Regions from separate parts of the Homo sapiens genome. Here all the other regions are linked to region 2. Evidence: fine-mapped expression QTL. A gene starts in region 2. Each other region holds a variant in brackets. All regions are shown on one strand. Distances are between the middles of the regions. Region 1 holds the start of LOC102724772 (a long non-coding RNA gene). Region 2 holds the start of EYA1 (EYA transcriptional coactivator and phosphatase 1). Region 3 overlaps EYA1 (EYA transcriptional coactivator and phosphatase 1).

The links. PIP is the estimated chance that this variant, and not a neighbour inherited with it, causes the effect.
Region 1: its variant is the best candidate, but not a certain one, in a credible set for the expression of EYA1 in testis (GTEx, PIP 0.64).
Region 3: its variant is the best candidate, but not a certain one, in a credible set for the expression of EYA1 in prefrontal cortex (GTEx, PIP 0.55).

The regions. Positions count from the first base shown.
Region 1 is chr8:71,547,214-71,549,975 of GRCh38, reverse strand. It overlaps LOC102724772 (a long non-coding RNA gene), which reads right to left and starts at 2,331. Exons shown (of 5, transcript XR_929035.3): 1 at 2,281-2,331; 2 at 1,068-1,164. It also overlaps a transcript of EYA1 not described here. The variant C/T (reference allele first, on the strand shown) is at 1,597.
Region 2 is chr8:71,361,005-71,363,766 of GRCh38, reverse strand. It overlaps EYA1 (EYA transcriptional coactivator and phosphatase 1), which reads left to right and starts at 1,698. Exons shown (of 18, transcript NM_000503.6): 1 at 1,698-2,120. RefSeq lists enhancers at 1,908-2,017, 1,770-2,291.
Region 3 is chr8:71,231,460-71,234,221 of GRCh38, reverse strand. All of the region lies in intron 12 of EYA1 (EYA transcriptional coactivator and phosphatase 1), which reads left to right. Among named protein-coding and RNA genes, the nearest start is that of EYA1, 130 kb to the left of the region's middle. The variant A/T (reference allele first, on the strand shown) is at 1,193.

The sequences.
Region 1 (2,762 bases), 190 kb before region 2:
ATCCACTACTGCCAATATTTTAAACATATGGCCTTTCTGAAAGAGTAGTGATGAAATAATTCTCCACACCTTCAAATTCAGAAACTCGTTCAACATTTAGATCGGTTTTTATCCAAGGCCATATGAAAGTGGGTTTCCCTAAAAAAATAAAATGGTCAGATATTTGGGTTGAGAACTGTTCTCTCAAACTTTAAGAATACTAGGATAAAGTATCAAAATAATTCTTCTATTAATACATAAAAATTTTAGGTGATATGTTACTTCTGAACTATATAAATTGATTTTTAAAATATGATTTTCAAATAGATAGTATGCCTGCCATCTTTGACATGAGAAACTTTCATTGCCTTTGGTAAGTTCTTAGCAAATACTTATATCTGGTAGCTTTGGGTTATTTTTTCTCCCCTCCTCCCTCAAATAAAATTTTTGATCACCTAATCTTTAAGTCTCTGGATTTGCTTTTTTATGTTATAGTAATTCTTTATGAATAGGTAGAAAGCATAGGTAGTAGTTTCCTTTTCAAAAAGGAAAAGCCATCCTCATCAACTGGGTAATTTAACTAACATTTCTATTTGGGCAAGGTATTGGGGTTTTATTGGGTTAACAGTTTATTGATGCATTGATTTCTACATGAAGTCTCCCTCACCCAACATACATGGTTTATTTTGGAAAGTTTCTGTGTCTGAAAACATAAAAATATCCAACAGTTAAGGACCAAAAAAAAATCAGTCTTTGTGTAGATTTCTGATTATTTCCTGTGTGTTGGTCTTATCACAGAATCTATAATCTGTGGCCTTTGAAGGTGAAGGATTAGATCTCATTGTTCTGACTCTTCATGGCATCTAGCACAAGTCAACAAATACTCAATGACTGACAGAAACAATAGTAAAGTGTGTGAATCTAGACAATTTTGAAAGAGTATGTACAATAATACCTGCATTCATGCTATGCTTTCTACTTTCTAAGGCCCTTTTGCTTACATGATCTCATTGGATGTGAACAATTGAGTGGGGGATGGGGAAGGGATTTCATCTGAGGGAGAGAAGAGCCAACATTCTGATGCTCACTGAGAAGTGATGAGTCCTTATAAGAGCAAATCATCAAGGTATTTGCATATCTTTCACTGCTCCTGATTGGATTCCCCAGTCAAGTAAGAGGAAGATCCTGGAGAAGGAACATCTCAGATTACTGGCTTGTAATGGATGCTTCATCCAATGCTGAAATACTTTGCAGGTCGAATCAAGGTTCTCTAGCTCCCCTTAAGTTACAGAGACAAGGGAATTTTGGGGTTACAGAAACTTCCCCCTACCAGCTCAAAGCGTCCCTTGGTGCAAAGAAAGGCAAAAAGTTTAGAAGAAAGGACAATGGGTTAGGCCTGGGCATTTAGTCAAGGCTCCCCTGCCCGACTTTGGGGTAATCCATTTACCATTCTTGGCCTCAGTTACGCTATCTGTAAGAAGTTAGAATACATACCTTTAAGATCACTTCTAAAGGTATTTGAATCCCAGATGTTTTAATAAGTTTCAGGCTGACTGAATATTCCTTTACATCCAACCTACAGCCCCTCGCCCCAAATCACCAAATCACTCCACCCAT[C/T]CTCCCCTTCAGGACCTCCCCATGCACACCTAGCTTCCTCGCGGTGACAGAACTAACCCACCACCCCCTCCTTCTGTTTCTGAGGCCTCTCCGTAGAAAACGCTGCAGGGGCCAGGCGTCCGAGACACCCCGCGGGGCAGTGGGCACCAGGCCCAGGCTCCGGCTGCAGAGCGGAGGGGCGTCGGGCCCAGGAAAGGGGCTGTGGGTGGGGGTACGGGGGAGACCCGAGGGGTGCTGGGAAGAGGGCTCCCCTCTCCAGCGCCAGCCCTGGTGTCGCTGTGCACTCGGAGCCGCGCGAAGGGCGCCCCTCGACCCGGAGGCACAGGAGCGTTTAGAGAGGAAAGAAAGAAAAAGCCACCGCTGGCTCGAATTTCTGGAAGCCGGAGCCGGGTTTTTTGCCCTAAACACCGAGGCAGAACCCCTCTTAGCGCTGCCCCGGCCTCTCTGTTACCCATTTTCGGTTTGCTTTTGGAAGAACCGGTTCCTCAGCCCCCCGTCGCCGCAGTTGTGACACAAGTAAGTGCAGCCGCGCTGCCCGGGGCCCGCCAGGGTCCCCCGCGCCCGCTCCCCACCGTGGCTCGCGGCGGCCGCGCTCCCGCCCCGCCCCGCTCGGCCGCCCCGCCGGCTTCTGCCTCCAGTTGGGTTGCCGTGACGAGGAGACGTTGTTGTGAAACTAAATCTGACCCTGAGTTCCCAGGCGGCGGCCGAGAGCCCGCGGCTGCTGATGCCCCTGGGCCCCACCCCGGGGCAGGAGGGCGGCGATCGGCGCCCGGGAAGCGGCTGAGGGGCGCCGCGACTCTCAGCGAGCGCCGCCCGAGCCCCAGCCCGCCCGGGCAGCCTCCGAGGCCTAGGGCGCCGCCGCCAGGTACGCGAAAGTCACCTGGAAGGGAGCTGGGTGCGCGCAATAATGGGGCCTTGAGCCGTGGCCGGCAGGGGAGAGGTGCAGCCGCCCAAGGCCCGTGGCGTCGGGCGCTGCACGTGGAGGGATGTGTCAAGGGCCGGTTTGTTTTCCTTCGGGGAGGTGGTAACTGATTGGGACGTCGGGGGACGGAGGGGAGGGTCCTCTTGGCCTGATATGATGTTGTGATTGCCATCTTAGACATGTGCGTGAGCTCGAAGCTCCAGTAATGGGAAACATCTGGAGGGCAGCCCAGGCAGGCAGATAC
Region 2 (2,762 bases):
AAATAAATGTGGTTGCAAAAGTATTTACTGTTTGATATCAGATTGAATTACCACAACATTACATTTTATCTGACAATGCTAGAAATCTCCATTACAAGCTGTATTTTATTTTCTGCATATATACTTTAGTATATTGAATAACTGATACTTCTGGTCTGAGAAAGTGCAGTAGGTGGTAACATAATTCTATTTCTGCTGCATATATGAACAGATCCAATAGCAATCAACTGTGTTTTGACCTGGCTTCCCAAATATGGTAGATGACTAGCCCATGATTCCTTGCTGGTACTATACAAAATGAAATCCTAGGTGAGTTTGCAGTTTAAACTGTCGTTTATGTTTGACAAAGTGTTCTTTTCTGAGGAATTCAGATTGGCATACTTTCGGTGGTTGGGGGGAAGTCTGTAATAAATTTTGGTCATTAGCAGCTTTTTATTTTTTGTTTGCATCGGAATGGTGCTTTCATTTACATATTAGCAATATAAAGTTATGATTGTGTCTATGTGTTTTATTAGTTGACGATCTGGAAATGTATTATAAAGTCATGCAAAAAGTTATTGTGATTTTTAAAATTTTTTTCACATCTATCAAGCGCCTAAAAAATGAGGACGCTTTTTTTTTCCTTAAATAAAAGACCTAATCAGCAGAATAGTATTCTATGGGTGATGACAAAACAGTTTTAAGAAAAATCCGATGGGCTTAAAGATTTTATTTTAGAGCACAAAATTGGTTACAACGAGTGACTAGTATCAAAATAAACATTTGTATTTGAATGTTGGCACAGGTCTGGCAAATTGAGATACAATCATTAGTCACATAAACGATGCCTTCTTTGAATATTTGAAATCAACATAATGGTTAAGTCTTATCACCAAAGTCATGTATCTGTATAAAACATATCTTAACTGAAGCTCAGCTCTTTAGGTGAGTGTTATAGACTGTCATGCATAGATTCCGAGGTCAGTAAGAATTTTTTTTTAAAAGAATAAGCTGTAAAGAAAGAGTTCTAGATAACATGAATCTTTTCCAAAAACCATTTAAAAATATTAACACTGAAACATTATCTGGTTCATAGCCAAGGAATTGTTCACAGAAGATTTGCCATTCTAGAAATCATTTCGGATTCATCCTTCAGGCTTTCATTATTAAACTGATAAAAGCTTGCACGTTTGCTTTTTCATTTTCTACTTAAAGGGAAATGGCCATTCTAGTTTTTTATTTCCCCCAGACCTGTTTCAGTAGTAGGTACGTTAGTTAGGAAATAAATTATGAAAAGTAGTGGATTCCCTAAGTTTCAGGGCCTGAAAAAAGTTTAGGAAAAGTGTAAAAGATAACGTGTAACTACTCCCCAAAGATCTTAATTGGTAACTACTGTTGCAAGAGGACGCGTGTGTGTTGACCACGTCTCAGAGAAGTTATTCTCACACAGCTGTTTATTCAGATAGCGTGGGGCGCGTTCATTTACATAATTTTTTTTTTTTTAAACAGCAAGGTTGAGTCAGACAGAGCAGTGCTCCTTTCAATTGTTGCATTTAAACCAATAAGGTTAGGACAAGAGAATAGCTGTGGTTTGCGTTGCAAAAACCAAAAAAAAAAAAAAAAAAAAAAAAAGAAAGCCCCGAGGCTCCATGGGCAGACCTACAAGGCTGCGCAAACAAATCGAGGGATGAGATTCTGCTGTTTCTTTGTCTAGGGTTCTCAGATGCTATCTGCCGCTGCTGTTTGGTGGGGAAGGAGCGCTGGGCGCAAAGCTGTTACCAAACAGAACGGTGGGAGCTGATGGCTCCGAGTTTGGGGCGAGGTAGAAACTCTCCAGTGCCACTTCCGACTTTAAGCCTTCCTGTTGCCGTCCACTGTGGCGGGTTTCTTCCTGGGGAACACGTTTTCGCTCAGTCGCTCGGCAGCCCGAGCCTGCGGCAGCGGCCAGGCGCCTGCCCCCTGCGCCGAGCTTTCCCCTGCAGAGGCGCTCCACTCCCAGAAGCGCCGCGGCTGCACCAGAGCGCCTGAGAGCCCCCGCGCGTACCCATCCAGGAGCAAAACTATGTCAGGAATGGAGGTTTGCTAACCCAGAAAATTCGAAGGAACACATTAAACTGGTGGATGCAGCAGATGTAAGCGCTGTAAGTACAAGCTGACTGTTTGAAAAATTGTAGTGACTGACAACAGCTGTCCTGTGGGCAAAGCCCAAGCTAACAGGAGCGCTTTTATTATTGTTTTGATTTGTTTTCAAAGAAAAACATTATGGCATGGGGAAAATTATGACACTTTGTACCTAGTACTTTATGAGCCACAGGGTTTCATCCTAGAAGTAGAATTCCCAACCTCCAAATTATGAGCGATCAGGATCATTAAGAAATAATTACAAATTAATTGTTAACAATTACTTTTGTTATGCTCTAGATAAATGTAATGCAGGACCATATTCTTGCAGGGAGATGACTTCATATCTCTTTTCTGAATTGCTGCACAAATCTCAAATATATTTGTGTGGTATTGAATAAAGCGGTACATATATGTTCATTGCAATACATAAGTAACTTTTACACACTTTGATATGAAAAAAATGAAGCATTTAACATTTGAAAGGACAACAGATAACAACATTAAATTGATAGCACTTTTTAAGGAAGAAAATATTTTTGCTTTAATAAATTTCCCAAACGTTATATTAAACAAACTTATCTTCAGAAGGTGATATAACAAACATTTACCCAATTAATATATTTTTCTCTTATTGACACTTTGTAAGGCTTGAGTGGACC
Region 3 (2,762 bases), 130 kb after region 2:
ATAGGAAGGAAAATACATGTGGTATGGCAAGGAGAATGACTACAGGAAAGAAGTCCTTGGATAGCAAGACAGAATGAAATCCGGAGCACAGGTTACATGGTGGGTCTTAGATAAGAAGGCAGGTAGAGTCTGCAGGTACAGTGCAGTCCAGGAGTGGGGATTTGGTCATGATCAAAGGAGCTGGTTCTTGCTATAAAAATATTTACTGCACTTTATTAAGATTTTCTGCATACCTCGGTCTACCCCCCACTGGGAAATCCCTTGAGGCCAGGAATCAGGATTTGTCCACTTAAATCCTGAGCTCCTGACACAAGATTTGGTACATGGAAGGCTCTCATATGTTTTCTTTAATTACTTATTTTCAAATTTTTCTAATAGTAGTCAATGATGAGCATTACCTTTATTATTTAGAAAAGTTAACTTTTAAAAGTAAATGAAGATTAATCTCAATCTTAACAATTAAAACACCCAAGATATTAGACTTTCATATTACGTTAAGTCAGATTTTCAAAATCCTTAATGTCAAGACACAATATACATAGAAGAGGTATGTTATAAAATGATATGCAGCGTGGTTCCAGTTTGGGGATTAAAAAACAAAGGTATGTATATCAAAAGAAAACAAAGGCTTTCTTTTTTTTCTTTTTTTTTTTTTTTTGAGACGGAGTCTCACTCTGTCGCCCAGGATGGAGTGCAGTGGCACAATCTCGGCTCACTGCAAGCTCTGCCTCCCAGGTTCATGCCATTCTCCTGCCTCAGCCTCCTGAGTAGCTGGGAATACAGGCGCCCACCACCACGCCCAACTAATTTTTTGTGTTTTTAGTAGAGACGGGGTTTCACTGTGTTAGCCAGGATGGTCTCGATCTCCTGACCTCGTGATCTGCCCGCCTTGGCCTCCCAAAGTGCTGGGATTACAGGCATGAGCCACCGCACCCGGCAGAAAACAAAGGCTTTCTATATTTAAAATGATACAGAAATAATTTCAACAATAAACACTGATTTATCTCTAGATAGTAGGATAAGAGAAATTTTCTGTTTTTACTTTCTATATGTAATGTTTCTTATAATTAGGAAAATGCTGAATGTAATCATGGCTCTCTTATTCCAGCCTGACTCAAAGCCCAGTGTTGTTTATGTGGTTTGTTAGCTTGCAGTTCTAGAGACACCAGAGGTGGAACTGGTGAATTCATTC[A/T]TTCGTGAGGGCCCCCTTTATGCCTCAATTTCCCATCTGTAAAACTGGATGATGATATACCTCATCGGGTCAGTGTGAGAATTGCGTGAGTTAAAATCTGTTAAGTGCATACAACTAGCACTGGCTCGCAGGAAGCACTAAGGAAGTCTATGCTGCTGTTATTGTCCATTGAGTGTCTTCTACATGCAGAATGCTGGGTCAAGCCCTGTAAGGCTGTAGGGGACGAAGGGAAAGTGACTTAAGGAGGGACGAGGGAATGAAGGGCATGAGAAAATAAGTGGTTTGCTGCCAAATTCTCTTGTAGAATTCCAACAGAAATCACACCAGACACACCAAAAAAAAAAAAGAAAAGAAAAAAGAAAAAACATCTGTCAGTGGCAAATGCCCCTGCTCCAGGTAGATCACAGAATACTTCTTTGGGTCCATCCTTATTCATGGGCTCCTCCCACCCCCAGTTGCATGCCGGGAGGTGTGCTGTTGGCAGTTAAGTAGCTACTGTATCTGGTTCCCGTCACAGTGTGCTGTCCCTCATAGAAAATGAGGATGCTGGCTTCGTGTAAAAAGACACGTTTCCTTGGTTGTGCTGATAAATGTCCTTTTACTCGTTGTCTTCCTACCTCATGTTTTGAAGGATGGCTCATGGAACTTGCTGGTGGTGTCACGGCATGCAGCGGAGCCTGGCTGGGTGTGAAGTCACTGTGGAGCAGAGCCTCCCCTTCTCAGGCCGCTTGGACTGACAGTGCAGGCTGCTGGGCGTCCTTAGTGAAGTAGGAGGCAGGGGGCAGCAGTCCTTTGGGAAACTTTTCTCATGTCAGTACAAAAGCACTGACTCCATCAACACTGTGAATTCAATCTTATTATCTGCAGTTTACACATGTGGGAAATTGAAGGGAGGTGGTTGTTGCCCAAAGCCACTTGGTTAGGTGATGGTAAAGCTGAGGTTGAAACTCAGGTTTTCTTTTGCAAACATCATTGCACAAAACCTTTCTAGCCAAGTCAGAGAACCTGGCTATTCCTTTTTAGCAAAGGAAAGGAAGTCAATAACACCTTGCTGCTGTCACACAAGGATGCTATGGAGCGGGGCCTAATAACTGGATGGGGCTTTCTTGACTGTATTCTTTGAAAGCTTTCTTTCTCACTGTGTCTTACAAACCTGCAAGCCATAGTTGCCCAGGCAACTTAAAATCTATTTTGGAAATGTTGAGAGGTAGGTCAATAGATAGAGAGTGGACAGAAAGACATGTTGTTGTAATGAACAACGATAAAATAATATTGGAGCAGTCCCTACATCACAGACTAAAAAGAGCTACTTTGCGCTGAATGTCCTCATGCTCACTCTATTCTGGACACTAGCTAGGCACTGAGGATAAAATATGAAACACATTCTTTGCTGTCAAGGAGCCCAGATACTGGGTAGAGACAGAAAAGTGAAAGAATAATTCCATCACAGCAATGATGGAGATGTCTGTGGTCATTAGCTAGAGTCTGAGAGATGGGATGGCTATCCCAGATTGGGGAGAGGTGGCAAGGCAGAGTGTTGGAGCAGTGACTTCCCCAGGAAGAAACATTG